Regions from separate parts of the Homo sapiens genome. Here all the other regions are linked to region 4. The links come from fine-mapping of genetic effects on plasma protein levels. A gene starts in region 4. Each other region holds a variant in brackets. All regions are shown on one strand. Distances are from middle to middle.

The links. PIP is the chance, under the fine-mapping model, that this variant and not a neighbour inherited with it causes the effect. Protein levels are from antibody-based Olink assays in UK Biobank. Linkage for the fine-mapping came from a reference panel and not from the study's own genotypes, which makes the PIPs less certain.
Region 1: its variant is fine-mapped to the plasma level of the FAP protein (UK Biobank, PIP above 0.99).
Region 2: its variant is fine-mapped to the plasma level of the FAP protein (UK Biobank, PIP above 0.99).
Region 3: its variant is fine-mapped to the plasma level of the FAP protein (UK Biobank, PIP above 0.99). The variant lies in the coding sequence of FAP. If it changes the protein, the assay may bind it differently, which can mimic a change of level.
Region 5: its variant is fine-mapped to the plasma level of the FAP protein (UK Biobank, PIP above 0.99).
Region 6: its variant is fine-mapped to the plasma level of the FAP protein (UK Biobank, PIP 0.97).

The regions. Positions count from the first base shown.
Region 1 is chr2:161,932,348-161,937,347 of GRCh38, reverse strand. The region is part of intron 15 of SLC4A10 (solute carrier family 4 member 10); the gene reads right to left. Among named protein-coding and RNA genes, the nearest start is that of DPP4, 140 kb to the left of the region's middle. The variant A/G (reference allele first, on the strand shown) is at 2,768.
Region 2 is chr2:161,221,803-161,227,268 of GRCh38, reverse strand. TANK (TRAF family member associated NFKB activator) reads right to left here. Exons shown (of 8, transcript NM_001199135.3): 5 at 3,278-3,354; 6 at 2,523-2,638. PSMD14-DT (PSMD14 divergent transcript) reads left to right here. Exons shown (of 4, transcript NR_110593.1): 4 at 3,786-4,011. Among named protein-coding and RNA genes, the nearest start is that of LINC01806, 20 kb to the left of the region's middle. The variant A/G (reference allele first, on the strand shown) is at 2,360.
Region 3 is chr2:162,216,865-162,221,864 of GRCh38, reverse strand. FAP (fibroblast activation protein alpha) reads left to right here. Exons shown (of 26, transcript NM_004460.5): 7 at 1,940-2,012; 8 at 2,682-2,802; 9 at 3,725-3,879. Among named protein-coding and RNA genes, the nearest start is that of FAP, 24 kb to the left of the region's middle. The variant T/C (reference allele first, on the strand shown) is at 2,748.
Region 4 is chr2:162,241,439-162,246,818 of GRCh38, reverse strand. FAP (fibroblast activation protein alpha) reads left to right here and starts at 3,374. Exons shown (of 26, transcript NM_004460.5): 1 at 3,374-3,497; 2 at 3,827-3,911. The coding sequence starts at 3,492. LOC105373724 (a long non-coding RNA gene) reads right to left here and starts at 702. Exons shown (of 4, transcript XR_923544.3): 1 at 648-702.
Region 5 is chr2:161,344,779-161,350,244 of GRCh38, reverse strand. The region is part of intron 3 of PSMD14 (proteasome 26S subunit, non-ATPase 14); the gene reads right to left. Among named protein-coding and RNA genes, the nearest start is that of PSMD14, 39 kb to the right of the region's middle. The variant G/T (reference allele first, on the strand shown) is at 2,500.
Region 6 is chr2:162,195,778-162,200,777 of GRCh38, reverse strand. FAP (fibroblast activation protein alpha) reads left to right here. Exons shown (of 26, transcript NM_004460.5): 15 at 159-212; 16 at 1,897-2,021. Among named protein-coding and RNA genes, the nearest start is that of FAP, 45 kb to the left of the region's middle. The variant T/G (reference allele first, on the strand shown) is at 2,989.

The DNA.
Region 1 (5,000 bases), 310 kb after region 4:
ACTGAGTGCTGGGGGGCCTGGTAAGTATATTGCATATTAAAATAATAACACTAAATAGCCTTTGGTTTGTGATTAACATTGATTATGCTGCCATCATTTAAGGTCCAGATCATTAACTGAAATGATACTTTAAACCATATTGAGTATCTTTTTTTTAACACAATGGTATGCGACTAGAAATCAATAACAGGAAGAATTTTGGAAAATGCAGAAATATGTGGAAATTAAACAACATACTCCTCAACAACCAGTGGGACAATGAGGAAGTTAAAAGATAAATTTAACAATGTATTGAGACAAATGAAAATGGAAACACAACTTGCCAAAAACAAATACTTTTGTAGATTGCAACAGTAAGAGTTCTAAGAGGAAAGTTCATGGCAATAAACACTTACATCAAAAAGGGAGAAAGATCTCAAACAACCTATAACATTGTACCTTAAGACACACAAAATAAGAAGAAACTAAGCACAGAGTTACTAAAAGGAGGAAAATAATAATCAGAGCAGAAATAAGTGAAATACAAAGTAGAAAAACAATAGAACTGCTCAACATTTTATTGTTGAAATAGAACATTCTATTCTATTCTATCTAACAATAGAACAGCTCAACTAAAGGTTGGTGTTTTGAAATAATAACAAAATCAACAAATGTTGAGCTAGACCAAGAATAAAGGAAAGAAAATTCAAACAAATAAAATCAGAAATGAAAGAGGAGACATTAAAATACACTACAGAAATGCAAAGGATTATAAAAGAACGCTATAAACAATTATTATCCAACATATTGAATAACCTAGAAAAAAATGGATAAATTCCTAGACACATATAACCTACTAAGGTTGAATCAGGAAGAAATAGAAGATCTGAACAGACCAATAATAAGTAAGGAGATTGAATCAATTACCAAAAGCCTCTCCCAAGAAAGAAAAGCCCACGACCTGATGGCTTCAGTGCTGAAATCATCAACCATTTAATGAAGAACTAATAATACCAGTTCCTCTGAAACTCTTTCAAAAAATTGAAGAAGAGAAGTACATCCAAACTCATTTTATGAGGAAAGCATTACAATGATACCAAAGCCAGACAAGAACATTACAAGAAAATATTATAGGTCAATATCCCTGATGAACATAAATGCAAAAACCTTCAAAATATACCAGCAAATTAAATGCAACAACACAGTAAAAGAATAATTCATCATGATCAAGTGAGATATATCCCAAAGATGCAAGGATGATTCAACATTTACGAATCTATAAATGTGATACACTACATTAATATAATAAAGAACAAAAACCATGTGATCATCTCTACAGACACAGAAAAAGCATTTGACAAAATTCAACATTCTTTCATGATAGAAACTCTCAGAAATTAAACATAGAAGGAATGTACCCCAACACAATAAAGACCACATGTGATAAACCCACAGCTAATATCTTATTCAATGGTGAAAAGTTGAAAGGTTTTCCTGCAAGATCAGGAATAAGACAAGAATGCCTACTCTTGCCACTTTTAGTCAACATTGTACTGGAAGTTCTAGTCATAGCCATTAGGCAAAAGAAAGAAATAAAAGGCATCCAAATTGGAAAGAAAGAAAGAAAGAAAATTATCCTTATTTGCACATAAAAATGGGTAGCACTTTAACACCCTAACAACAAACTATCTGAAAAATAAAATCAAGAAAACAATCCTGTTTGCAATAGTTACCAAAATAAATTTCAAATACTTAGGAATAAATTTAATCCAAAGGAGGTGAAAGACCTGTACACTGAAAACTATAAAACATTGATGAAATAATTGTAGAGGACACATATAAAAGGAAAAATATCCTGTGTTTATGGATTGGAAGAACTGATATTTAAAATATCCATACTAACAAAAGCTATCAACAGATTCAATATAATCCCTGCCAAAATGCCAATGACATTTTTTACAAAAATAGAAAAAAGCAATCCTAAACTTTGTATAACCACAAAAAACAAATAACCAAATAAATCTTGAGCAAAAAGAACAAACCTGGAAGTATCACAATATCAAACTTCAAAATACACCACAAAGCTGTATTACAAGGCAGCATGGCACTGGCATAAAAATAGACACAGAGGCCAGTGAACAGAATAGACAACCCGAAATAAATCCATGTATTTAAGGTCAAATGATTTTCGACAAAGATGCTGAGAGCACACAGTGGGGAAAGGACAGTCTCTTCAACAAATGGTGTTGGGACAACTGAATATCCACATGTGGAAGAATGAAATCAGACCCTTATCTCACACCATATTTAAAAAAGGATTAAATACCTAAAACCACTATAAGAAAACATTGCCATTTGTCTGCATAATTTTTTTTTGGATTTAACCCCAAATCACAGACTGGGAAAGCAAAGATAGACAAATGAGATTACATCAAACTAAAAAGCTGCATAGCCAAGAAAATAATCAGCAGAGTGAATATACAACCTATGGAATGAGATAAAATATTTACAAACCATAAATCTGATAAGAGATTAATGTTTAAAATATACGAGGAACTCAACACAACTGTAAGAAAAAAAACAAGGTTAAAAATGGGCAAAGTATCTGAATAGACATTTCTCAAAAGAAGACATACAAATAGCCAATGGTATGTGAAAAAATGCTCAAATCACCAATGATCAGAGAAATGCAAATTAAAACCACAGAGATACTACCTCACATCTATAAGAATGGTTATTATCGAAAAGATGAAAACTACTCACAGTAGCCAAGATTTCGAAGCAACCT[A/G]AGTATTCACCAACAGATGAATGAATAAGGAAAATGTGGTACATATATATGATGAAATACTATTCAGCCATAAAAAGAATGAGATCCTGTCATTTGTGTCAACATGAATAGAAGTGAAGGTCGTTATATTAAGTGAAATAAGCCAGGCACTGAAAGACAGACTTTGCATGTTTTCACTTATTTGTGGGAGCTAAAAATTAAAATAATCGACCTCATGTAGATAAAAAGTATAATGATGGTTATCAGAGGCTGGGAAGGGTAATGAGGGGTGGGCAGGCAAGTGGGGGTGGTTAATGGGTACAAAAATATAGTTAGGTAGAATGAATAAGATCTGGTATTTGATAACACAACAGGGTGACTACAGTCAACAATAATGGATTGAACATTTTAAAATAATTTAAAGAGCAAAATTGGATTGTTTGTAACAGAAAGAAAGAACAAACGCTTGAGGTAATGGATATCTCATTTACTCTGATGTGATCATTACACATCAAAATGCCGGTATCAAAATATCTCATGCACCCCATACATATACACACTTACTGTGTGCACAAAATTAAAAATTAATTTTTTTTTAAAGATGAAAGTGTCTGAACAAGTGTTGGCGAGGAGGTGGAGAAAGGGAAACTTTTCACATTGTTGATGGGAATATAAATTAGTACAGCCATATGGAAAACAGTACGGAGTTTCTTCAAAAAATTAATAGACCTACCATATGATCCATCAATTCCACTACTGGATATGTACCCAAAGGTAATTAAATCAGTAAATGGAAGAGATATCTGCATTCCCATGTTCACTGTAGCATTTATTCACAGTAGCCAAGATATGGAATCAACCTAAGTGCCCATCAATGGACGAAAGGATAAGTCAAACATGGCATTGAGGCTGAGTGTGGGGGCTCATGCCTGTAATCCCTGCATTTTGGGAGGCCAAGGCAGGAGGATTGCTTGAAGCCAGACCTTTGAGAACAATCTGGGCAACATAGCAAGAATGTTGTCTCTATAACAAATTTTTTAAATTAGGCAGATGTGGTGGCATGTGCATGTTGTCCTAGTTACTCGGGAGGCTGAGGCAGAAGTATTGCTTGAGCCCAGGAGTTCCAGGCTGCAGTGAGCTATGATTGTGCCACTGTACTCACTGGGTGACAGAGTGAGAGCCTGTAAAAGAAAGAGGAAAGGGAAGGGAAGGGAAGGGAGAAACAAAGAGAGAAAGAGAGAGAAAGAGAAAGAAAAGAATAGAAAGAAAAAAGAGAAAAGAGAGAGAAATAAAGAAAAAAGAAACAAAGAAAGAGAAAGAAAAAGAAAGGAAGGAAGGAGAAAGAAAGAAGAAAGAAAGAAAGAAAGAAAGAAAGAAAGAAAGAAAGAAAGAAAGAAAGAAAGAAAGAAAGAAAGAAAAGAAGGAAGGGGAAAGAGAAAGAAAGAGGAAAGAAAGAAGAAAAGAAAGAAAAACAGGCAGGAAAGAAAGAGAAAGAAAGATAAGTGGCATATATACATTGTGGAATACTTTTCAGCCTTAAAAAGGAACAAAATTCTGTCATTTTGACAATTTGGATGAATTTCAAGGACATTATGTTAAGTGGAATAAGCCAGGCACAGAAAGACCAATACCTTGTGATCTCACTTATATGGGGAATCTAAAAAGACTGAACTCATGGAAATAGAAAGTAGAATGGTGGTTATCAGGGGCTCAAGGAGTATGGGGAGAAAAGATCAGACCTAGACACATCTAGAGCAACTGTAGCTCCAACTCTCAAGAAATGGCATTAAAGAAAAGTACTTGAACACTGAGAGGTCTTTTGAAAAGAGTCAGTGGATCAAACTCCCTACAGTAGTAAAGATTGTGGTAGAAAGATCCTATACTTTACATTTTTCCAAAGATAAGTAGGAGGCAGATCAGGTGAATCCTGAAGTTCCAGAACCACCACAGATGCCCAATCCATGTCATCATCCACATAAGAGTTTCATGTTCCTCCATGATCTGATCCTGAGTCCCAGTTTGGGACTCAGAGGCAAGTCCTAATAGAAATAACCTTTCATACTTAATGAAGATACCGAGGTACTAGACTAAGGATTAAGGATAGTAAAGCTCAGTAGCATGTCCATAGTCTGAAATGAGATGAGTGCTTATTTTAAAAAGTAGAATCTAATGTATCCATATTGATCTTGGATCCTGCTCCAAATGGAGGCTTATACATTATACCCATGGTAGCCTCCCTCAAAGTGTCAATTTG
Region 2 (5,466 bases), 1.0 Mb after region 4:
AACAGATATTTTCTTTCAGCAAAGCTAGCTGGCATAAAACTCAGCCACATTAAAATAATCTGAGTTAATCTGCTCAAGCAGTGAGAGTTAATATCTATTAAAAAAATTTAAACCTTACATTCCTAATGCTACTAGAAATCTAAGCTGAGACAACTTAAAACTCAAATGAGATGCATGAAAGCACTTGTCATCCTGACACCATATTGAGAAACATGATCAGGTGAGCAAATAGCTTTTCTATTTTGTCTATTTTAAGACTACTTAGCTTTGCAAGGAAAAAGTAAAATGGGAAATATTTTTAGATTTCCCAGTTTTAAATACAGGCTATCCATTTAGTTACTTCTCAGTATAATCACGTTGTATATTGACAAAAGAAAAAGACCTCATGGTTGTTTATTACCCTTCTCATGGATGTTTGTTACCCTTAATCCTATATTCTTCCTTCCCAATCTCTACTGAAATTGGACACTCCTTTATGAACCAAACAGTACTTTATTTGAAGCTATGGATAAACATACATTTTATCTTTATCATTTCTTAAGTCTACTGCCATATGTAGATGAGTAGAAAAAACAAAGTAATAATAAATAGGAAATGTAGAATTCTACTAACTCAGTATTTTCAAATGAATCATATCTGGTTATTTAAAAGTAAAAATCAAATTTTAATACAAAATAACATAGGGACAATACACGTACTCTTCCCAGATATATTGTGCAAATCATATTCAAAATAGTTCTTCTATATTTTTATACAGTGTAGCATACATACTTGGAAACCCTGAATAGGCATCTTTTCAAAAAATATTTTTTCCTTTCTCCTTTTGATATACCACTGTCAGAGTATAATATTTATTTTGGTTTCTCTTTGGACCCCAGCAAAACTTCACTAGAGTCTGTAGCACAAAATATTTTGAGAATAATGTACTTATTATTTGTGACACTGTTAATATAAAGCATAAAAATAAGGCATCAGGAAGCAGTTTTAGTGGAGAAGAAATTGAAGTTAAATACTCAGTGTTCTAGCTGACAGACACATACTCAGATTTAGACCTGTGCAATTTAAAAATGGTCAAAGTATTAAGCCATTGATAATGAGATAAGTTTTCTGTGTAACAAAGAATATATCACCATTACAATGCCTTGAAAAGATGTTGATGTTCAAAAAAGCATGTTTATGAATTCTAGGTACTACATCTCCATAGCTAGCATATTTTAAACAGAAATAATTCATTTACTTCAGAGGTACCTAGTTATCTTTAGTCCATACAAAAGATCAATTTCTCATGAAAATGACAAAAATTAAGGTGAAGAAAAGAGTTGTTTTTGGGGAGGTGGGGGAAGGGAGAGAAAGAACCAAATTATGTCTGTCTACAAAGATTATTTTGTTTCTGTAATACCACATTGTGTAACTTTTCTGAAAATAAAATGGTAGTAGTAGCAAAAAGTGAATTTACACTATAAAATGATTTTAAATAGCCTAGATGTAAGAGCTGCAAGAAATGGAAAGTGATCTTTAATTAAAAGGGTGTTAGTCAGCAAGACTGCAACATCTCTCAGAGTGAAAACTGTAAATCACATCCTTTGGGAATTGTCTGCAGAATAGCTCAAATCACAAAGGTAAAGGAGAATTTATCATTATAAATGATCAGTTTACCTTCCTTTTGTTTGCAGAAGTGTTTGGTTGCCAGACCTAATCCCTTAGATTTTGCTATTCATATAGAACTACTGAAGCAAACACCAGGAAGCCAGTCTGGGGTTTTAGGAAAGGGTACAGCATTTACAAAACATACTATAACACATATGTAAAACAAATGTTCCTTCTAAATTATATTTTATACTAAATGTGTATTTTGTGCATTAAACACAACTAGCACTCAGGAAATTTGAGTGCCACGTTTTTATTCTTGAACCAAATGAGTTCAAAGAATTCTTGAGCCCAGGAGTTCAAGGCTGTAGTGCACCATCAGGCCTGTGAATAGCCACTGCACTCCAGTCTGGGCAACATAGCAAGATTCTGTATTGAATTAAAAAAAAAAGAACATTAAAAAAACATCTATCCATAGTGTATGTAATGCACTTTCAGGCAGAATTTACAAACAAACCTGATGTTATAATTTTACTTAGCTCATATAATATGGTAGTGTGGCTTCAAGGTCACTTATTAACATAAAAGTTAATGTTTAATAAGGTCCCCCAAAAAACAACTGAAAACTTTCAGGGATATAGTCTGTATTTATTTTGTATTTTTTTAAGGTGGGATGTCTCATTAAGATAATTAGTAATTATGTCTTTCAATTTAATCTATATAGTACCATATACAACAAAGAGAAAAAAACCAACAATTACACATGTAATAC[A/G]TTACAGAACTTACACAGCATGTACACATTCAAACATACGTGGATGAGGGGTAAATTACAGATGCTACACACTTAATAGGCATTCAGGAATATTTTCACATTCAAAAGGAAATCAATTTCAATCAAGCAAATCAATATTACTGTAAATTAAATTAAATCTTACCAGTTGCAGTGTCTGGTATATTAAGTTTGCTTAAGTGGTCTTTCTGTGCTTTTGCTAGCATGCATATTTTATGAAATTCTTCTTTCAGATCCCAGAAAGTCTTCTCTATATTACCCCTAAAAAAAAAAATCAACATTTTAAAATGTAAAGCTATAACTTCCAAGTTTTTTAAATAATCAAACTTATGTAGTACCATTTTATGTGCCACAAAATAATTATTTAAAAGTAAAAAAAAATTATTTTAAATTCCTAAACAATGTCCCCAAAATCAGCTTGTGTTTGTAGAGGGCCAGGCACAAAGTAAGTGATAAATTAAAAGTTTTAATACATAAATATAGTATAGTCTAGCATATCTACTTATTCATATATACACTAATGTTGGCTGTCTTATTCTCACATTAGAAATTTCAATGCATTGACTTTTGTTCTCTGCAAATATCTTAAATAGAATATTAAATATTCCTCATTTTGGTAAGGTTCACATTAGGAGCCATCCATATAAAGAAATACGACCTTAACACTTGGTCTATTGAAATAGTAGAGCTTTACAGAATTCAAGTTTTAGATTCAGCTCTGCTATTAACTGCATGACTTGTTTAGGTCATCTTTAACATGTAGGATTCTGGGGTTGGTCACTTCCACTTATTCTAAAAGGCTATTTTTTTTGCAATTGTTAAAGCTTAAAAAAAACAAATATAAAATATATTTCAGTATTGATAATTTTTAAGAGTTGAGAAAAAAGGATGTAGAACTACCTTTCATGGAGCAAAGGACTGCCAAGACTCCTTGCTGAAGTTTCTTTTCTAGGAGAAGAAACCTCTTGTCTTCTTACCTTAAACATACAAAATGATTACTATTACTACTTTAAATTGCTCCCAAATTCAAATGAGGTCGAGTAAAGAGAAAACACAAAGGAAATTTTATTTACCTTCCCTACTGAAAAATAACTTGAGACAGCTTATAGACCTATATGTAATATACAATTGATTTTTTTCTTTAAATGAGAAAAATCAAGGAAAAAGGAAAATGAAGAAGGAAAGTCTGAAGAGATGAAATATTTCTGGTAACTTCAATTACTATTTCCGGTACTGGTAATTCAAGAAATTTCTCAAATTCAACTATTGATCAAAATTGCTGCTCTGTTCACCAAGCACCTCATACGCTCAGAAACTTAGGGGGAAAAAAATCTATGTGTCTACTTCTTTTGATATTCAGTAAAAATGGCCTATATATTTAAATCAACGTGTTTGTCTTTTGTTATAGATTCTTTGCTGAAGAATGCAGCTGTATTAAAGGAAGAAAGAAAACCAAGCTACAGCTCCTTATAATTCAACAAGCATTTAAAAGATTTATAAAGATGGTGCAATTATGTATTTAAGCTGCTTCAACACAAGTTCTTGCCTTTCACTCCCACCCTGTGGCTTACACTGGTATTACATCTATTCTGACATTTAAAAATCAACATTAAAGAACATATTGTAATAATGTATTCTATGGTTTAAATATTTAAAAAATTTTACATCATACCTAGAAAGTGTTGTGTACTTTCTAAAGCTTATAAACTGAAAAGGATTTGAAGAATCCTAATACAGAATCATAAGTTATAATTCATCCAAAATTGTATAGTTCTTAAATTTCAAATCCAAACCAGTGGATATCTGTCTTTAGTGACATTTAGATTTTATTCAATTAAGGTCATTGTAGCTATTATAAATGGAAGATTTTACTTCATTGTGTCTTATCACTGAAGTACTTCACTCTTGCTTTTCAAAAGATTTCTTTCAATTTCTTCAGAGTCTTATTTGTTCTCTAAGACAAAGACTTGATTTCAGTTTGTTTTTCTTAAAATTAATATCTTCTCCAATTTATTTCCCAGTTTTTTCTAAATAAATACTTTAAATATATAGAGTATTATTTTTATAGTATCTCAGAATTAGTAAAATAAAATCTTGCCAATACAAACAATTTGTGATTTTATACATTATATTGTCAGACTGAAGTAAAATAAAGATTATTTTGTTGCTGCATATCATGTGTTTGACAAACATTCAGGTCATATATTCTTCTGGATTAAAACTGCTGTATTGAGCATTATAAGGCAGTCACATCAGAAGATATTTTCACATTCACAGTTTGTTTTTAAAAGTGGTAGACAAGGTTTTTCTATGGTGTTTTGTACAATTAGAACACTCAATGGATTTTAGTGTGGACTAGGAAGAAAGGCAACATTTTAAAGCTAGCCAGCCAGTCAGAACACTACAAATACGAAAACAAACTTTTAAAAGATTTTATTATTAAGTCTATATCAACAAAATCAGAGAAGAGGTATATTAAGAAAATACTTATATTTGATAATTTAATATGTCAAACAAATCATAAAATAAGTGATTATATATTAAATGGAATGACCTCCTTATAGTGAGCCAAGATTGTACCACTGCACTCCAGCCTGGGCGACAGAGCAAGACTGTCTCAAAACAACAAAAAACAAAACAAAAAAAAGAGTAATGCCCTGTAGTTTTAGCCTAAAACTGGAGATAGTTACAGAAAGTGGTAAAGATAGTGCTCCAAATTCCAAAGTCCTGACTTTGACATAAACTAGGAATGACTGCTTCTGAGATTAAAGAAGTATTAAAAAACTAATGGGGATGAAGAGGGCTGAAGGAAAAGATAGGAAAAAAATGACAAACCTTTGTCTCGCTTGGTAAATAATTGATGCTAACTTACTTCTGTGATGTTTGGATTTGATAACTAGTGTGGGTGAATTTATCAAGAAAAGATTCCTTTGGTGTATTGGCAGGAGGTAAAGGAGGACTCCTTAAGGAATTCCTATGACGTATCTAAACTAAGGTCTTCAGCTTCTTTGGGGTTAGAAACACAGCTCTGCTTACTATTATTTTTGTTTTTATTCTTATTGAAAAAAGTATTACTGGTTGTACTAGGC
Region 3 (5,000 bases), 25 kb after region 4:
CTTTTATATGCCTTTGAAGACTCTATAAAAATCTAGCATAGAGAAAACAAAACTACTGGTTTCAAGCTAGGTAGGCAAAACTGAGGAGATGAACGCCTTTGTAAAGCATCCTCCCTCGCCTTTTCTCATACCTTTAGTGACTCAGAAAACAGAAAATGGCAGCTGTGATGGCTTGAGACATGCGCTGAGATTTTTAGCTTAGTGCTGCTTGTGTGATTGCATAGATAATTCCACTGTATGTAGAAAACTGAGACAATGTTACAGTATGAAAGGTAACATGAGCACTAGCTTGAGAACAAATTGTGAACCAGGTGAAGAATGTCTTCTTATTTTTTTTTTTGAGACAGGGTCTCGTTCTGTCGCCCAAGCTGGAGTGCAGTGGTGTGATCTCGGCTCACTGCAACCTCCTCCTCCCGGGTTTAAGCAATTCTCCCGCCTCAGCCTCCTAAGTAGCTAGGATTACAGGCTTGTGCCACCACTGCTAATTTTTGTGTTTCTGTGGGGACGGGGTTTCTCCATATTGGCCAGGCTGGTCTCGAACTCCTGGCCTCAAGAAATCCGCCGCCCAAAGTGCTGGGATTACTGGCGTGAGCGAGCCGGCCAGGCCTGGGTCAATCTTTTAACTGGGCTCTTGCATCCCTTTCAACATGTTCCCGATCACCCAGGGGCCTGGTGCTCATGTACTGCCCTCTGGCGGCCAGGACTCTCATTGCAGCACCAATGGTCACTTTCCATGGGAATCACTCTCCCCACTCAAAACTATGCCATGTTCCCTTGCTACTTGCTAGGTCTCATGCAGGCACCTAAAAAGTTACATCAAGGCAGTGTGTGTTACAGATCTTCACAATTGCCCAAATATTAAAAGAATGGGAAAGGCAGAAATGTCAGGCACATGTTAGCTCCAGGTTGGAGAGCTTTTTTTGGAGGGGTTGGGCAGGAGTCTTTTTTGAGGCTCTTCAAATTGTGCTTGGGCGGCAGGTCTTGCTCTGCTTTCCCACGAAGGCAGTCTCGATGAAACTGTTAATACAATCTTCAAGATGACAAAAGTCAAAAAGTAAGCATGACATCCTACGACTCTGCAACACTTATAAAAGTCTGAATGCATTCTTGCTGAAGAACTACAAAAGCTCCACAATGCAAGTCACTTGAGTGCTTGCAGAGTGACTCTAAGCATCAAAGTGAGAGTTTTGGCCAATAGACTATTTGAAATTTCCCCATGGGTGGAGGACTTTACAAGCTTAAGGCATACTGCCCAGTATACAATCCGTTTTTCAGTTTAGCTTGAGATCAGATGTTCCTTTCCTTTTCTGATTTCAAGTCAGATCCCTGGGGAGATTGTCAAATGGCATCTTATTTTCAAAAATTTGAAATGCATATGCATTCACAGAGATGGGGGTTGTGAATGAGAATGTAGAAGAGCACATACTAAACTTCAGCACAATTATAGAATTTCAGAGCTGGAAGGCACTTCAGTGACCATTTCAGTCTAGTGTGTGCAAATTTTACAATCCCAGGGGTTAAAAGGACTTGAGTTTAATTCAAGGTCTGCCAAGAACTAGCAATGTGGTCTTAAAAAGTTCTATCAGCTCTCTAAACCTCATATTTACTTTCTATAAAATGAGAGGACTGTATTAGATAATTTCTAGAGATCTTCTCCACTTTGACAGTCTGTAAGTATTTAATCCATTCACCTCACTATAAAGGTCAGAAAACTGACACCCAGTAAAGTTAAGTGACTTTTAAGTAACTACTGGAAGAACAGCAATCAACACCTATGTCTCCAGTTCTTCATTCCTGCATTCTTTTCATTAGGTTTGTGGGTGCAGAGGGAATGATCCTTAATTTTCATTGTTTGTTTATTTTTTCTGTTCATACAGATTATTATTTTTTTGCATTAAACAGCAAGGTTTGTTGTTTTTCTTTCTTTCTTTCCTTCTAGAGAATTTGTAAGAGGAAATGAGCTTCCTCGTCCAATTCAGTATTTATGCTGGTCGCCTGTTGGGAGTAAATTAGTAAGTGTTTAAATTTTTGAAGTGTTTAATCATGTAAATAAAAGAGGAGCCATTTGATTTTGGCCTTTGTTAAATTTCCCTGCCTGAAAGAAAAAAAAATACATTCATGACTATTTTAGTGGTTAAAAACGGGAAGAGTTTTGATAAATTGAAACCCATCTGAGAATTCCGCAAAATCTCAAGCTCATGGATAGACTTCTTTAAATATAGCAGTCAAAAACTTTATCCTTATACTCAGCCAGAATGCGTTGTGCCAGAAAGCTCAGGAAAAATATGGTTTTCACAAGTTTCCCAGACTAGCTTCAGACAACATGAAATTTGGTCCAAGCTCTTATTTAAGGACTCTAAATAAAGATTAGATCTGGCTAGCTATTAATATTCAGAGATTTATTCGACTTTCTGTCAATATACATAATTATTTATTTGGGGTTAATGAAACAACTAAGAAAATAATAGGCTTTATTTTTTATTTGATTCAGACTTTAAAATTCATAATTGATGTTAATGTGAGTTGGTTGGATTTTTTGACCTATTAAAATGGTATTTTAGTTGTGAATCTTTTTTGTATCTTTATTACCACTCTGTTTAAAGGTATTAGAGGAATAATTAAAACAAATATACAGCCTTCATTTAATTTGTTGTGGAATTTCCCCTTACCACCACTTTTAGGCATATGTCTATCAAAACAATATCTATTTGAAACAAAGACCAGGAGATCCACCTTTTCAAATAACA[T/C]TTAATGGAAGAGAAAATAAAATATTTAATGGAATCCCAGACTGGGTTTATGAAGGTAAGCTGTATTCCTTTTCTACTGCTAATGCTTTAGGCTTTTAATTTAAAATAATTTCATATATTTAGTAAGATTTAGATGAGTAGTATCTTATTTCCATGAAGGGTAGCATTGCTGAAAATTGTCTCTAGGTTACGAATAGGGCATACGTATTTTAAAAGAACAAATTCTTGTTATCAGAAAACTGGTAGAATTGATTCTCAATAACATCACTATGAAGTGGTAGTAATGATTTATAATCCAAAAAAGTATATGGTCCTCAGGTGCCGCATTAGTACATTTTCTCATGTTTACTTTTTCTTTAGAAATTTTTTTTTTTCAAAACTAAACAACTGACTATGTTATCTTATGGGAACATATTTTTACTTTCTGATACTCTGTTGATTTTGTTCTCATTCTAGGTCATGTAGAATTCAGGACTTAATTGGACTTTAAAGAGACTTCTAGTCTCTATCTATTTATCTATCTATCTATCTATCTATCTATCTATCTATCTATCTAAACTAACTGTGTTTTTGGTTTTTTTTAACTCTTAGGAGGGAAATGTAACTTTCAATGTTTATGTCACTCTCTAGTACAATTATAGTTCTTTCTGTTTTGGCTATCTTAGGTGACTAAAAAACCTGAAACTGCCCTGAAAGAAAAAATTAATTAGTGCCAACATGTTTATTATTTATTTAAAAAATTACATTTCTGATTAATGTCATTTTCTAACAAGGCTAATTGATGTTTGATATAGAGTGAAAGGGTAAACTATTCCTCTTAACTCAGATTATGTAATTTTTTAATAACCAAAGTATGACATATGTCACATCCACATTAAATAAATTATTTCAGTTGATAAATAGCTATTTAGAAGTATTTACAATGATTTTAAGAGTAAGATGTAATTATAGTTAATATCCTAGTACTTATTTTTCAGAGGAAATGCTTGCTACAAAATATGCTCTCTGGTGGTCTCCTAATGGAAAATTTTTGGCATATGCGGAATTTAATGATACGGATATACCAGTTATTGCCTATTCCTATTATGGCGATGAACAATATCCTAGAACAATAAATATTCCATACCCAAAGGTATGTTGAATACTTTCAGCGATGCTTTCATTTTCCTGGTATCAAAATGAGCAATGATTTACCATGAGTAAAGGTGGGATCAACAAGTTTGGAGAGCTTCTTATCCTTGAGCATTGTAAGGCAAACATTGTACTGTGCTCTATTATTTATGTGGACATCTGTTGCTTTGGACATCTGGTTGTGCTGGATGAAGTAGTCTTTGCAAAATCTATTGCAGAATCTTTGAAAAACATATGGTCTTGATCATGGAGGAAAAACAAGCTTAACTTAATTTTAATTTTTTTCATATTTCATGCTCCAAATTCAGGGTAAAGTTCTGTTTTGCAATTCTCTCTTGAATTCTCATGTAAATGCAAACTAGAATATGAAATACAAATGCTGAATTTGATGTTCCTGTCAGGTAGAAGCAGGCATGGGTTATGGTCCTTTCTGGATGTACAAGATAGGTTAAATTTATAAGTCTCAATTTCTCCCTTGAAGGAAGTAGACATGGTGTGAACCCATAGTTTTTGGATATTTAACATTGTAGAGTTGTTATACATTCTTTTTATTGAGTTTCACATCTGGAGGGAGGAGACCTGAGTGTGCAGTAGGAGAATGGTCAGGTCTCAGTGAAGAAGCATTATATCCTAATTTCAATGTAAAAATGATATCAGAAAAAATGGAATCAAAGTACAAATTTACCTCTTGCACAAGGAATCGGATGCGATTTTAGAATTCACTTCTTTGTTCTTTGGATGCTATTGCTTTTACTTGCCAAGGGGAATATTGTCGTGGCTGGACACAGTGGGTCCCTGGGTGACAAAGACGGTTGGATGTGGTATACACACAAGTGAATTCTAAGCAAGCCAAAGTGGCCATAGAGAAAGAAATAGAATTGCAGACAGTGTAATATTTATGTTAAAAGTCTAAAAGCTGTGTAAAAACTCTAAAAGCTGGAGATGTTTGGGACAGGCCTCACATTTTGGGGGAACCCAAGATGTAAAAGAACTCAGATCTTTGGGAGGACCTATGGGAGCAGGAAGAGACGGGGAACCCAGAACTGAAGAGTGACTGACACTGATTGGGAAGTTGGGACCCACATTCTCATATTTCCTTGAGGCTTAAGGTTGCTAAAACAT
Region 4 (5,380 bases):
CCCCAACAGCAAATCAGTGAAATGTCAATTATAATTTTAAAAAAAATTTATCACTTTGGAATAAAACTTTAGGAAGTATCACAAAGAAGCAATGTAAGGTGGTAACACTGGGTCCTGTTAAAATCTTGGGCAAGTTATCCAGTTTTTCTAGGCTGTTTCCTAATCATCAAAATGAGTTTTGGTATGGATCAGATGAAATAATGCATTAAAATCACTTTGTAGATAACAGTAAACAATAAATGTTTATTGAATCTGAGGAATCAAATGGGTAGGATGTTAGGAGCTGTTAGGCTCTCTAGAAGCAAATTTTTACTTTAAAGAGTATAAAATCAGGCTTATGTTTACTGCACTTGTATCCTTATTCCCCTTGTAACTTGTCCTTAAATAATTTGTCATGGCTTTTGGTTAATAAACACATCTCTCTTTCATCTCCCCACCATAAAATAAAAAGATAACATCCTTATGCTCTCAGCATGGTCTTACCTTCAGACTCTAGAAATACATAGCTGGATGTGTTTTCTGGGAAAACATATAAATTAAAATCATTTTTGGCAGGTAAACATTGGCTACTAATAAATAGTTCTAGTAAGCTCTCCTCCTTATAACCTAAGGATTTATGTTATAGCTCACTTATCCAGTGGGCTTACCAGAATGCAGTCATATTCCAAAGTCAGCCTTACAAGGTCCCTCTCTGGAAAGAACTCAGTTGATGAGCCTCTACTCTCCTAATTGCTGCCCTTACATTTTTACATGACAAATCATCATCCTTTCTGGTTTTGCAGCATTTTAATAGACCCAGAGTTGCTTTCTGAGAAAAGTCTCAGTACTAACAAAGGTTAGAACTAACAAAGGTTGAACTAAGGATGACATGCATGTGGTATGTGCCCTTTCCAGTCCTCTTCCCAGGTCCATGAAGAAATCACCAACCAGTGAGAACACTCTTTCTACAGAACACAAACTCAGCTTCAGGCTATTTCTGAACAAGAGCTTTAGGAAGCAAAAGGAAACAAGTATGTAAGAACATTAAGAACATACCTGCCATACTTATACTAGAATGTAAGTTCCTTAAGGGCACAGACTGTGTCTGATTCATTTTTGTTTTCTCAACAAAAATGTTGATGGGGTGTTAACTAATTGTATAAAGTAGGAATAAGAGTCAGTTTCGTAAATGTTTTTTAAAAGTTGACAAAAGTATTTTCATTTTGATTCCAAAATTAAAAAAAGCTAATAAAGATATTACAATATTTTAAAAATCCAAATTTTATGAGAGTTCTTGTCTGGATGAAAATTAGAATACATTCACATTATCTCAAACGAATGAACATGTGTGACTTTATAAAAACAATACCTCCCTAAACCATGAATTCAGATGGAAAAACTCGACATCTTTATTTCTGCAGTCAGTCTCATTTTTCTTAAAACAGTTCAAACTAGTAAGAATTTTCCAGAAGTTACAGCTTGACTCACCCAACCTTCCAAGGAAAAAACAAAAAAACTTAAACAGACATTGTTTCACTCTCATCATTTCCCACCCTTACTAATAGTGGCAACTTAAGTGTATCTTAAAGCACTCCAACCTCTTCATAGAGCCTATTAAATGAGTATCTTGTGGACACCCACACACAGTCATAGAATCCTAAGTGGTGCTCAGACCAGTCACATGTCAGTGCATTCTTAATTGCTAGAGCTAACATGCTCTCAGCATGGTCTTTTAATTACACCCTAATAATTTATTATAGTTTCTCTCTACAATGTAAAGTCTTGGAAATCACCCACTAAAAAGTGCCTGTGTACTCTGGGGCTTTGGCAGGCTAGGGCAGAACTTCTGAGAACACGGTGTGTTCCAGAGAAGACAATCAATCTGAGAGGACTTACACAGAAACAGTTCATTCAGGACCTGGCTGCTGGCTTTTATCTGAGATCTGAGGATTTCACAATCACTTGGAGATACCTACAAGTGTATAGCACACCTTGGATATTACTCTTAATGATTACTTCATTTTGTAAAGAGGTGACTCCACCAACAGCAAAGGAGAGGGCCCAGCCCCAGCCACCAGGAATACAGTTCTCTGCCAGTAAGTGCCTAATGACTCATTTTCCTCAACAGAATTTTCATAAGGCTGGAATTCAGGGAGGGATGTCTGGAGAATGTCTGAAAGGAAGTTCACAAGCCACTGTCCTGCTCTTTGCTGGAGAAAGTGTCCCGTGGTAGCCAGAGAAGTTGACTAAGGCAAACAGCAACATGTTTTGGTAACATTTCCCCATTACCTTTCATGTACAATCCAAGAAAGGTTGCCATGAAGTGTTTTAATCAGGTTGGGAACATTATAAACTTCGAAAAAAGAAAACCATTAGTGGAAAAATTAAGGACACAGTAGATTTAACAACTGTGTTTACGTGGAACCACAAAATCTATCCAAGTGAATTGCATTAAAACAGACAGAACACTCCAAGAAACTGTTGTATGTGTATTTTTTTTAATTCAGTCAACCATTTTACTAATCTGTCAAGATGACCAATTTCTTTGGAATTATGTAGATTTAGCCAAAATGAAATTATACATAAGATTTACTTTTCTTTTCAGATGCTTTTTTATTTATTTTTAAATCTTTATAATTACTAGATGTTCTCCTCTCTCAGAAGATATTCTGAGAGGAAAGCAAAAATACCACTCTTGTAAAGCCATTTCCATTCTTCCAAAGGTCTGCTGGTAAATTATTCTTACTGATCTTTCCATCTTTCTAGCCTGTGCATACACACCTAACCCATACTAAATTTCACCAGATGGCATTTTATTTCTTTAAAGTAAAGCAGCCGTGGGTTTAGACAGTTGAATTTTTAAACTTCTGTATTTACTGAAAGTGCATATGGTGCTATATGGACAAAGAAATTGTGCTGAAAGAAAAACATTTCTGTCTGCAATACCTCATAATCTTCCAGAGGAAAAAAAAGTGCAGTTATATGGCACATTTCTCACAAAATCTTATGTGGCTTCAATGTTCTTCCTCTGTTAAAAAGTAGATATATGTTTAATGTACAGACCTGCAAGTTTCATTATTTTAAATTCATCTTTTAGTGGCAAATAAAAATGTTATGCAAAACCCAATGACTTGCTAAAGTGATCCTTCAGTGAATTCTAGAAGAAAATGCAACATAAACCTGAACTGGTAAAAAAGAAAAAATAAAAACCTCTGTATGTCAACGTAAGCAGATGTTGGTGTAGTTACAAGGATGAGAAGGCTATAAAACTTCCCTTGAGTCACTCACAGTTCATTTGAGGGCCAAGAACGCCCCCAAAATCTGTTTCTAATTTTACAGAAATCTTTTGAAACTTGGCACGGTATTCAAAAGTCCGTGGAAAGAAAAAAACCTTGTCCTGGCTTCAGCTTCCAACTACAAAGACAGACTTGGTCCTTTTCAACGGTTTTCACAGATCCAGTGACCCACGCTCTGAAGACAGAATTAGCTAACTTTCAAAAACATCTGGAAAAATGAAGGTTAGTATAAGCAACCTCAAGTATTCTTAAAAAATTAGGGTTGGCTGGATTGAACGTGATCAGAGTTTTCTATTGTTTAGAAGGTGAAGATTTGTACATAAGTATTTACTTCCTCAATGGGTTGGGATTGGAAAATTGTTCTAAATATACTGTAGAAACATTTGTCCTTGCAGAGCTGGAAGAATTCCAGCAATTATAGCCGGATCAGTGGAAAACAATCAAAAGCTTTGTGGGGCGAGAGAAAAAGGATTTAGGTGTAAACAAAATCTTGCCATTTCTACTATTTAGCAGGAACTGTGTGTATGCCTAATTCTCTTTATTTTATGTAGACTTGGGTAAAAATCGTATTTGGAGTTGCCACCTCTGCTGTGCTTGCCTTATTGGTGATGTGCATTGTCTTACGCCCTTCAAGAGGTAAGAACTTTCTCTGATTTGCTCTATCTGCCTAGAATAGCTTGGAAAATGTACTAATGCAAGATCACAAGTGGTTGAACATTTCCTAAGTGCTTATGTTCCAAAGTAAGTCTGTTATTTCTAAGAAGACATATAAGCTCACAGATATGTTGTTGTGCAAGACCAGAAATACTGAGGAATTTAAGGCATGGGTAGGAAGAGATTTACAGTGTTATTTCAGCAATAGAAAAACCTAAGAACTATGCTGCATCACCCCCACAACCCCCAAAAATATATGCTAAATACAAGCTTTGACAGGCCTTTAGAAACAACATTTTTAACTAACATTGCTTTTCATTATTAGGTTTGTCTCGTGGAAAGTAAAAATGAGTAAGAATGGAAAAGTTAAAACAGAATCTATGGACTTTTTTTATTACTAAATAGTCTTTCCAAAAATTTAGGGAGGAAGTTGAGAATACAGATCTCAGGAATAGCTGTATAGAAAAAGCAAAGTTGTTGTTTTAGATGTAGTAGCACTGCACATCAAATTAGAAAACCAAACATTGTTAAGCAAGCATTTTGATCAGTCATAAATTGGATCCTTTTACAAAAAAGGCTTAGATTGACACTGATCTCACTTTGCTAAAAATTGGAAGGTACTATGGGCTGATATCAGAGCTAGTTTAAATATAAAGTAGGACTATGTTGATAGATAATCTAGTGATATTAGGGAAATAGCTTTTTATGAAAATATTTATGAAGAGAAACTCAAGCTTCTGAAATGGAAAAAAAATCCAGTAATAACAGGTCTTATGTCTTTGTGTCTAGGAAAGGGGAAAAATTTGTACTAATAAATACTAAAAGTTTATGATAACAAATGTGGGAAATATCTTGGTTAAAAGTTAACTGATAGTAAATGAAGATCAATAAAATAACTTCAGCTAAAGAATGTATGAGTCCTGAATGACTGGACTGTTGCTATTAAAAAGAACATAGAAAAATGTTTTCGAAAATTAAAAATAATCATGAGATTTTCACAGAATTACAAAATAGAATAGGTTAACCCATAAGATGAAGTCAGCTGATATCTTCAGTGTTAATTTCAGTCTTTGTTTCTGCTCTCTGCCAGCACAAGATTCTTCTTAGGCTGTTGAGAGGTATGTAGTGTGTGTACATATCTTTCATAAATTTTCATGTTAAAATTGTTTTCAGACTCATCTCTGAACTCAGTGGTCTTGGGGCCACATTTCCCTCATACCAGCAATTGTCAGGTAGTGGATTAGGTCATATAGATCCTTTGAATGTTAATTCATTAAAAATTAGCTCCTGATTTTTAAAGAAACTCAACCTTGAAATTGATACTCTGCACCCTCAGAAATAAATGTTCTTGGAACAAAAGTTTGTTAATTTTATAGGGCACTTGCCTCCATGTCCATAGGGAAGGATGAATTTCACTATGGAATTCAAGCTATAATTTCTAATAAGAAATG
Region 5 (5,466 bases), 900 kb after region 4:
TCAAATTTAACTGGGCATCCAGTATTTTCATTTGCCAAATCTGGCAACCCTATCCCCAAGTAACTACAAGTACTTTCTATTCTAAGTTCCTTACACATTTTATTTGTTCTGCCTAGCTTAAGCCAAAGGCAACTTTATATTACTAAACATACCAACATTTCTTTAAAAATGTTACCACGTATTTGTCTTTAAATAAGCATACTTTTAAGACTTAAGTACCCTCACCAAATGGACATTCCCAGTTCCCTCTTATGAAAAGAATACAAATTAAATCTACATCTCAATGTTATACATATCATATTTTTAATCTTGTTGGAAATCAATATCAACTTTGAAGTATCTTCTCTCTCCAAATGCTAACATAATTATTCATTAATCAACAAATACATCTTTTACTTTAGGCAAGAAAACATTCACAGTTTAGACCATACCTTGCAAGCCCTGCTGGTCTCTCCAACCCCACCCTGCTCGTCTGGCTCACAGCAGACTCTCCTCCCTCCTCTGAGGAGCACACCTCAGCTGCCCTACATATTCTCTGCTACAACTCTTCTCCTCATCATGTAATTAAGTCTCCATTAATTCAAACACTCTGTAAGGGTTTGGCATTCACTTGTTTGTAACTTCACATAGGATCTAGGTCAGTGCTCCACAGACTACATCTGTTACCTGATCGAACATCTTAAATAGAAAAGTCAAAAAGTTTAGAGAAGTGTACTGAAATAATTGAAAGAACTCCACACTAGGAAAGACTACCAAACACACACAAAAAAGATGCTCAATAAATAACTCTTCAATCTCTTTATAAATAAATGCAGTTTTAGCTTTTATTTTTGACTCACTATCTCACCCACAAACATGCCAAGCAGGCATTCTGATGCCTCTGTGAGCCAGGCATACATGAAAATGCCAAAGGCAATCCTTTGCCTGTGTGGTCTCCATTAAGAAATTTAGATCCTTTCTCTAGGAAGAGTAAGTATATCCAAAAGGCATAACAAATGAGAGGCTAGAGAAAGGGGAACTATTAGGATTTGACGCATACTTATAAAACAACAGACTGTAGATACTATGTTGATGCAAAAGTAATTGCAGTTTTTGCCATTACTTTCAATAGCAAAATTTGCAGTGAATTTTGCACCAACCTATAGTAAGCCAATTCGGCAGCGGACTGAGCAAAAGGGTCATTTACCTAGAAAGCTGATCTGTCTTCGGCCTAAGATAGAAAGATGCCTCTCTGGGAGTGAGAGGCCAATGAACCAGGTATGTGAGCAGCAGAGAGGAAGAAAGAGCCACGTGACAACTACCTGGAGTAGGAACAAATGTTTTTTCTAACCACTGTTATTTACTTTATTTCTTTTAAAATTTATTATGAAATATTTAGGAAATACAAAAAGGTCTAATGAATAATACAATAGTTCACTACACCCAGCCTATGAAATAAAACATCACTAAAGCAGCTGGGTTGAAGCTCCTGTGTCCTTTTCCCTGACTAACTGCATCCTTACTCCATATCCTCAGATGTCACCGCTATTCTCATCTTAGTGATCGTGCATTTCTTTATACCTTTACTACATAAGTATACACAAATAACATGCAGTATCATTTTGGGTATCTTAAAATTGTACATAAAAACAATCGTATAGAATTATTCCTCCATGTGCTTTTTCATTAGTATGAACTATGTGAGGATTATTCATTTTTCAATACTTTACAAACTTCCACTATTAAGTACAATTATGTACACATTCTCCTACTGATGGATAGTTGGGCCATTTTCAATTTCCTGAAATTATAAACTAGGGATCTCCAAACTACAACCTATCGGCAAACCAGCTGACTGTTTTTTAAAGTGAAATTTTATTGGAACATGGCCAGGCCCATTCATTTTTGTAATATATGGCTGCTTTAGCACTACAATGGCAGAATGAGTAGTTGTGACAGATATCATATGGTCCATGAGCCTAAAATATTTACTATCTAGCCCTTTAAAGAAAAGATTATCAAACCCTGTTATAAGCAATGCTGTTATGAATGTCCCAGTATCCATGTGGGAGACGTTCTCTAGGGAATGTAATTAGGAGAAGATTTGCTGGGTTGTAGGTTAGTCAAATCTTCATTGTTAACAGATTCTGCCAAAAGTTTTTCCAAGAGGGTTGTATACTCTCACTAGCATATACATGTTTATGGTACATTTCTGCTTCTACTAATGTTTGTATCTTTTGCCCATTTTTAAATGGATATCTTTTTCTTATTGATTTGTCAAAGCTCACATAATTGACTAATACCTTGTCAATTATATGTTAGATAAAACTTTCCCAAGCCGTAGCTCACTGTTTGCTTTTTATGCTTCATGCCTCAGCTGCATCTGAAAAATGAGCACTGTGACAATAACCAAACTGCAAAGAGTTGTAAAGATTACATGACCTAATATATTTAAAGTACTTAGAAGAGTACCCGGCACACAGTGAGTGCTCCACAAATATTAACTGTTTATTTTTTAGT[G/T]TTTTTAGATGAAAATGAATCAATCGTCCCTTTATTATTTGTGCTATCTTGTTTAAGAAATCCTGTCCTACATATTCAATTTTAAGTATCCATAAAGCAATATAAATCTCAGCCTCATCTTATTTATTCACTATCTCTGAATGCTAAGAATAGTACTTTCTGTTAATCTGGTTTCAATTAACTATTTAATTTGAACAGATTTTCTTAAAATCTCAGCACTATCTTAATATGATCTAACGTCTGAGTAGAGAGAGAATTCCATCTAGAATATTCCAACACAAATTTTTCCCATTAAAAAGTAAATAAGGTGCAGTGGGCTCATGCCTGTAGTCCCAGGTACTCAGGAGACTGGAGCAGGAGGATTCCTTGAGTAGTTCGAGACCAGCCTGTTGATATAGCAAGACCTCCTCTCCCAAAAAATAAATAAATAAAAGTAGACAAAAGGGACATCTGCTTATGTCCAAGACAGATAGAGTAACAGAAACTAAATCTACATTCCCACCTAAAGCAAAGAAAAAACAGACAAAACTCTATGAAACAATAGTTTGTAAGACCCTGATCAAGCAACAAAGAACAACGATCTCCAAAATTTGGGAAACAAATGAGGTGAGCCTTACCCTAGCTTACTGCCTTGAGATACTTTTTGGACTGCAGTGCAGAGGGGAAGAAACCCAGGCAGAGGACAGTAGACTCTCTGAGTTGAGATGACAGAGCTGAGATTACTGAGACCAAAACAACTCGTAATCTGGACAGAGTACCACAGAAAAAATAGCTGCAAAGAGAGAAAACCCTAGAGATCTTCACAGGGTCCTCTTTGAGTATTCAGCTTAATAATGATCAATGCATGTGTGTGAGGAATCAATGCATGGTCTGGGGAAAGAATCACTCAAAAGGATTACAGGGAAGAGTACACCTACCTCCCACACAGCACTGGAAAGAGTTCCTGTTCCCACCAGCCAAACTAGAAAATTTCAGAATTCACAAAATTAGAAGAGACAGAAAGGTCTAGCCTCAATAGTAGAAAATAATGACTCCTAAACAAGGTACTGCCCCAGTCTTAACTAGCAAGGGTTAAAAGCAAAACTAGAAAGAATCAAACAGTTTCCAAGTAATTCAACTGCATCCCATAACAAATATCAAGAATATTTCTAAGAATAAAAAGTAGCCAGCACACGAGATAAGACTCACAATGTGAAACATCTAGTAAAAACTATCAGACATACAAAGCAGCAAAAAAAATATGGCCCACAGTAAGGAGATAAGTCAGTCAACTGAAACTGAGCACTGACAAAGATGTTAAAATTAGCAAAGACATTTAGAAGTTTTTAAAACTGTCAAAAAGTTAAGGAGACACATGGAAAACATAAAAATGACCCAAATAAAACTTCTTGGGATGAAAATGACAATGTACCACTAGCAATAGGATAAAGCAGGGGGTGAGTTCAGAGAGGCATGACAAAACTTTATCTCTAGGCTGTCAATAAGTTGTCCAGAAGAAAAAACAATGCAAAATAAAAAATACACTAGATGGGGTTAATAGAAGATTTAACAAAAAAATTAAATGGCCGAGCACGGTGGCTCACGCCTATAATCCCAGCACTTCGGGAGGCCAAGGTGGACAGATCACCGGAGCCCAGGAGTTCAAGAACTGCCTGGGCAACATGGCAAAACCCTCTGTCTTCTAAAAATACAAAAAATTAGCTGAGAGTGGTGGCACATGACTGTAGTCGGGAGACTGAGGTGGGAGGATCGCCTAAGCCTGGGAAGTCAAGGCTGCAGTGAGCTGTGATCATGCCACTGTACTCCAGCCTGGGTGACAGAAGTGAGGCCCTGTCTCAGAAAAAATAAAAATAAAAAGAATGAACTTGAAGATGTAGCAACAGAAAAATGAAACACAGGGCAAAATGATTGGGGAAAAAAATAAAGCCATCTACAATTATAAGCAGAAAAAATATAAATATCTTTGGGATTCCTGGGAAGGGTGGTAGGAGAATAGAAAAAAATATTTAAGAAACAGTGACCAAAATTTGTCCAAATGTGATTAAAATAACAGGCCTTCGGACACATGAAGTTCAATAAACCAAAGCACAAGAAACATGAAGAAAACTACATCAATGAATATCATAACCCAAAATCAGTGATAAAGAAAAAAATCTTAAATGTATTATACAACAATATGAATAGAGGCCAGGCACAGTGGCACATGCCTATAATCCCAGCACTTTGGGAGGCAGAGGTGGGCGGATTGCTTGAGGTCGGCAGATTGCTTGAGGTCAGGAGTTTGAGACCAGCCTGGGCAACATAGTGAAACCCTGTCTGTACAAAAAATAGAAAAATTAGCCGGGCATAGTGGCATGCACCTGTGGTCCCAGCTACTCAGGAGGGTGAGGTGGGAGGATCGCTTGAGCCCAGGAGACAGAGGTTGCAGTGAGCTGAGATCACGGCACTGCACTCCAGCCTGGGTGACAGAGCAAGACCCTGTCTCAAAAAAAAAAAAAAAAAAAAAAAAGACACAGAGATCAAGAGAACAGAATTGAAATTTCAGAAATAAATTTTAACATTTAATAGTCCATTGATCTTTAACAAAGGGACCAAGACAATTAAATGAGGAAAGAATAGTCTTTTCAACAAATGGTGTGAGACAACTGAGTATCTACATCCAGAAGCATAAATTTGGACTCCCACCTCAAAATATGTACAAAATGGATCACGGAACTCAATATAAGAGATAAAACAATAAAACTCTTGAAGCAAACAAGAGTAGATCCTCATGAACTTGGGTTAGACAAGCATTTCTTAGCATGATATCAAAAGCAGAAGTCAAAAAAGAGAAGAAGACTGATTCATTGGACTTCATCAAAATTAAAACCTTTTCAAAGGTCGCCCTCAAGAAAGTGAAAAGATAAGCCATAGACTGAGAGATAATATCTGAAAATCATATGAGCAGGCTTGTGTCCACAGATAAAA
Region 6 (5,000 bases), 46 kb after region 4:
AGTTCAGTTATGAACAGCAGTTATTTGTGTACTTAAGCACCAATTAATTGTTTCATTAGATAAATGCTTACCTATATTGATACTATATTAGTATTAATACTAACAATCCTATTATCACTTATTTATCAATACTTAATAATTTCTGAATATATTTTCAGGTTTTATTCTAGCAATGAATTTGAAGAATACCCTGGAAGAAGAAACATCTACAGGTAATTTATGTCCATTCATTCTGGTATTTCTATGTGTTGATATTTTAATATAAAAAGTCATCATCCCCAGGAGATGCAAAATATTTTTAAAGTATGGCACATAATAAAAATCATTTATGAATTTAGAGAAAACATTTGGAGAATGGGTATAAAAAACACACACTCGCAAAATGTTAGCCAATTCAAAATATTTGTTTTCAAAAGGAAAAAACAAGAAATTCTAATGTTTACATGAATACTAAATACTATTCTGGTACTAAACACTTTAAGTACATATAGAGGTAATTGAGGACATTTCTTTATTTAACACACATTTGTTGAGTACCTAGTATGAACCAGGCATTGTTTTTATTCTGATAATATGTGATTTCCTTCACTCTGTCTCACTTTGGCACCACCCATGTCTGTTCCTATATTAGTGTTTACATTCAGTCCAGTTGTTCCCTTGAGGACTGAAATGGTGCCCTCGACAGCCCTTTCTGGGTGTGGAAAGGAAAGCAATAGTTACTACATGCTGGTAGTCTATTATATGCCAGGCACCTTTTAATCTGACTTACATATGTAATTTCATTTAATTCCAACAGCACTATGAAGCAGGTAATGTTGTTGGAGCCAGGATTTGTACCTGGGCATGCTGATCTCTGAGCCCTTGCTGTTAACTGCCTCCCTAATGTTTCCAAAGTTCCACCCGAATAGGGACATATGTTAACATACTAACCCTAACAGAGGAAATAAGAAATTTTCCCTCTGTCATATTCCCCTGTTCCCTCCTGGATCGTGATCTTACTTTATGTGTTAAAAAGAATCACTCTCTGGGTCCAGCAGTGTCTCTGGCCTGGCCATTCTCTGCCATGCCCAAGGCAAAGTCAGGGACAGCAGCAGAAGAAACTCACAGGTTGGCACAGGAGACCCTGACAGGCACCATGGGGTCCTGACCTGTCCAGACCCTGGCATGACATCCTCTAAACTCCTCCACATGGAATTCTGATTCTGAGGGTGTCGGATAAGGTCCCTGAGTCTGTGTATTGAAGCCAATCACCCTGCTCAGGAACCACACAGATGACTCTGCAGGGTGAGTGTAGGGCCAATGTGGGCAGTGCAGATTGGCTTGTGTAGACTGTGTGGAGGGGGCATTCCCAGCCTGAGCTTCCATGAGCCCAAATTTCCTGCTGAAAGGAATGAAGGCGCAGAAGGCACTTAGAACTGTAATTTCTTATTTCCAATTTGCTTATTATTAATTTCCCCATCCTGATATATGGTAAGAACAGGGACTCTTTCTTGGTGATACTGCCAGATTTTCTTGCTATGTTTTGCCATGGGGTGGAAACAGAGAGATAGAAAGACGAAGAACTATGCATTCCCAAGCACTTTGTGAAGTGTAAGAGATGAATGGTTATGGGAAGTGACTACCTCACTGCCATTTGAGGTGTTAGATATTTCTCCCACTCCAGGGAAACCACATAGGGCTTCTTCCTCAAGGTTTGTGCCTATTAAGGCAAAGATGGATCAAAAATCAAGCTACATCAAAATACTGTGATTCCCCTTTACTTTAAATGATATTGGCAACAGAAAAATAGAGTGGGTTTGATGTCAATATGTAAATTAGTCACTTTACATGGAGTAGTACATTTTGATAAATACAATCTCAAAATTTCAGCTTAGTTTTATTTTCATTTCCCTCTAGAATTAGCATTGGAAGCTATCCTCCAAGCAAGAAGTGTGTTACTTGCCATCTAAGGAAAGAAAGGTGCCAATATTACACAGCAAGTTTCAGCGACTACGCCAAGTACTATGCACTTGTCTGCTACGGTAGGTAACGGACCTCACATAAGCACAGCATCCCCACAGGCATGGTTGTCATCCTCCTCACCTCTATCTGATCAATTCGTAGCTACAGTTAATGAGCATTTGTTATATGTAAGAATCTTATCTTGTGCTTATAGAAAAAAAATTAAAGGAGGATAGGAAGGTATTATTATCTTTACTTTTTTGCAACTGAGGAAACAGAGTTTGGGGAAACAGGGTAACTTGCCAAAAGGTCCGCACTGCAGCTAAGCATCAGCCAGGACTGAAGCAAGTGCTGTTGCCTCTAAGTCCCATGCTCTTAACCACCACATTCCACAGCACTAAGACTGCGTGCAGAGGCAACCCGTCAGCTAGGCTTCGCAAGACCTGAGCAATCGCAGAAAAAGAAATGTTCTCTGATAAAATGGTTGCTGGACTTTTGGCCCCCTTTGCCCAGAGAAATATCAAACTCTCACATCCAGGGGAATGAACAACGGCTTGGAAACCCGAGATGCCCACGTCGGAGGTCAATCATTCCTCAAACTGTAGTTTCAATGGGGATAGAAGATGAACCTTTGTCCTTTCTAAATTTGGAAAACATCGTAAGTAATGCATCAAATATAACAAACCATAAGTAATAAAATCTACAAAACATTTCCTGGTTGTTTAGGACATACGTACATTTAATGAATAATTTCTACCCATATAATTTTATTTTATGTGCAACCTTTTATCTATATCTTGAGCATGTGGCAAACAATAAAACAGGTTAGGTTAAGAGGCCAATATAGATCAATGAAATATATTGGGGTCTAAGTAGTCATTATGGAGATTTGGAAAACTGACTCGGGAATCTCTAATTCTCCAATCTCTGTCACCTCCCTCCAGCTTATTCCTAATTTGGGGCTGAGAGTTAGAGTACTTGGAAAAAGGTATTACAAAATGTATGCTACCCTCCTGTTTTGGTATCAGCTCCCCTGGTAGGGGTATG[T/G]GGCTTAAAGAACAAATGGAATCTTTGACTGCTTGATATCCCTATTCAGTTGCAGAGGCCCTGAAGATCTCATAAAGGGAACCAGAATGAAGGCTACCCTAACATGCCACTTCCCTCAGTCCAGCCACCTGGCCCCGGAACCTGAGCTGCAGCTCATTTGACTACGTGGACATGAATAAGCATTTTAACCCAAATTCTCCCTTGAAGATAGCACAAAGATGTCAGTTTGAAATAACACTTTCATAAAATGTTTGGTCAATGGCATCTTTGAAATGTCAAGAGATTGTTGTTCATGACCATATGTGCTGATTGTGGTTACTGGCATTTAAAGGTATACATTAAATGTCCCTCTCAAGTTATATGCAACATTTTTCAACCTAAGCTATATATTTATGCAACATAGATTGAAAGCTTACATGCCAGGCACATAGTATCATTGAGCTAACTATACTGAGTCATCTGTTTATCTATCTTTTTCTCCTGGAAGGCAGGGGCTACATTCTTTTAATCTTTGTATTTCTAAGACCAAGAAGAATGTCTAATACATAATAGACATTCAATGTTTGTGGAATTAACATAGATATGAGGTAACATTGCTGTCCCTTGCAGTCTACCAAAAAAGCTGGTTTTATGCTGATGCATTTGCTGATGAATGCATCAGTGACACTACATTTACATCCATGCATTTATATATGTATGCATTCTGCATTTGTATAATGCTTTAATGTTTTTGGAAGGCACTATCTCACATTTTGTATTACGTTGTCTTCCTAATATCTACTTGAGCCTGTGTGCCCACTGAAGAGATGAAGAATAAAAGCCTAAGCTCTCATCAAAAGTTGGTGGAAGAGTCCTTTCTAGAACTTGAATCGCCTGACTTTTCCACCACTCACTCTTCCTCGGCAGTATGGTAATTTCCCATTTAGCAAAAAATATACTGTGTGGGAAGCATCACATCGTCTGGTGTTTTTGAAGCTCCAGTAAAATGAGTCACTGCGCCATCATAGGAAAAACCTTGAAATCTTTCCCTTCAGGACTAAGAGTAAAGCCTCATTATGTAACTTCAAACTCTCCCGAGGGATGGTTAGTAAGTCCCAGATGATAGGATCAAAACAGGTAAAATTATATCGATGATGCTGATGGAACAAAAGCATGCAAGGTAGGCTTCTCAAGGTCTGATGTTTAGGCCACTAGGATCACACCTTCATCCAGTGTCAAATACAGTCAGTCATTTATCTGTCTCATTTTTTAGGCAAAAAAAAAAAAAAAAAGATATGCAAGTTTCCATTATTGAAACTACACACTCATGAAAATTCCACAGGGTAGATGCTGGTTGATTAGAGTCTAGAAATTTATATTCATGTCTCATTTCTTTGCATGCTGGCTGAAAATGTAATATGTGTATTTGTCCTTTTTCATAACTTTGATGAAAAACTGGCCAAAATGAAAATCTCTGCAATAACATTCTATAAAATTCTGAGATTCCACACAGGAAGTTTTGAGTCTTGAGGGAGCCTAATAAATACTATCCTTTTTCCTCATTTCCAAATTAGACTAGGATTCAGGCAGGAAACCAAAATATTATCTTTACTTGTAAAGGCTAGTTGGAAAATGTGGTAAAGCTGTGTGGTTTCCCAATATTGCATCCCAGAATTATACTTACACAAATATAGGTATGACAGGGCAGCCACCATCTTCCTCCATGGGGCTTGGCACTGGCACAGGTACAGCACTGAGGAACGGATCAAAAGCATGTTCTCTGCAGGCAGAAAGATGCCAGAAGAAAGACAGAAGGAGCTACTCATACCCAAGTCTTCTCAGAACTCTACAAAAAAATCATTTCTCCTCTGCTTAGCATGAGCCAAGCATGCTACTTTAATGGGTTCCCTCCACATAGAAGGTAGCATCCTCACCCTATCTGGGGGGGGTGGGGTGGCAAATGAACATGTACCTCCAACCTCCACATTTGTTGCTTTTAACCTACTGACTGAGCAAATTTATGCTTAAAAGGT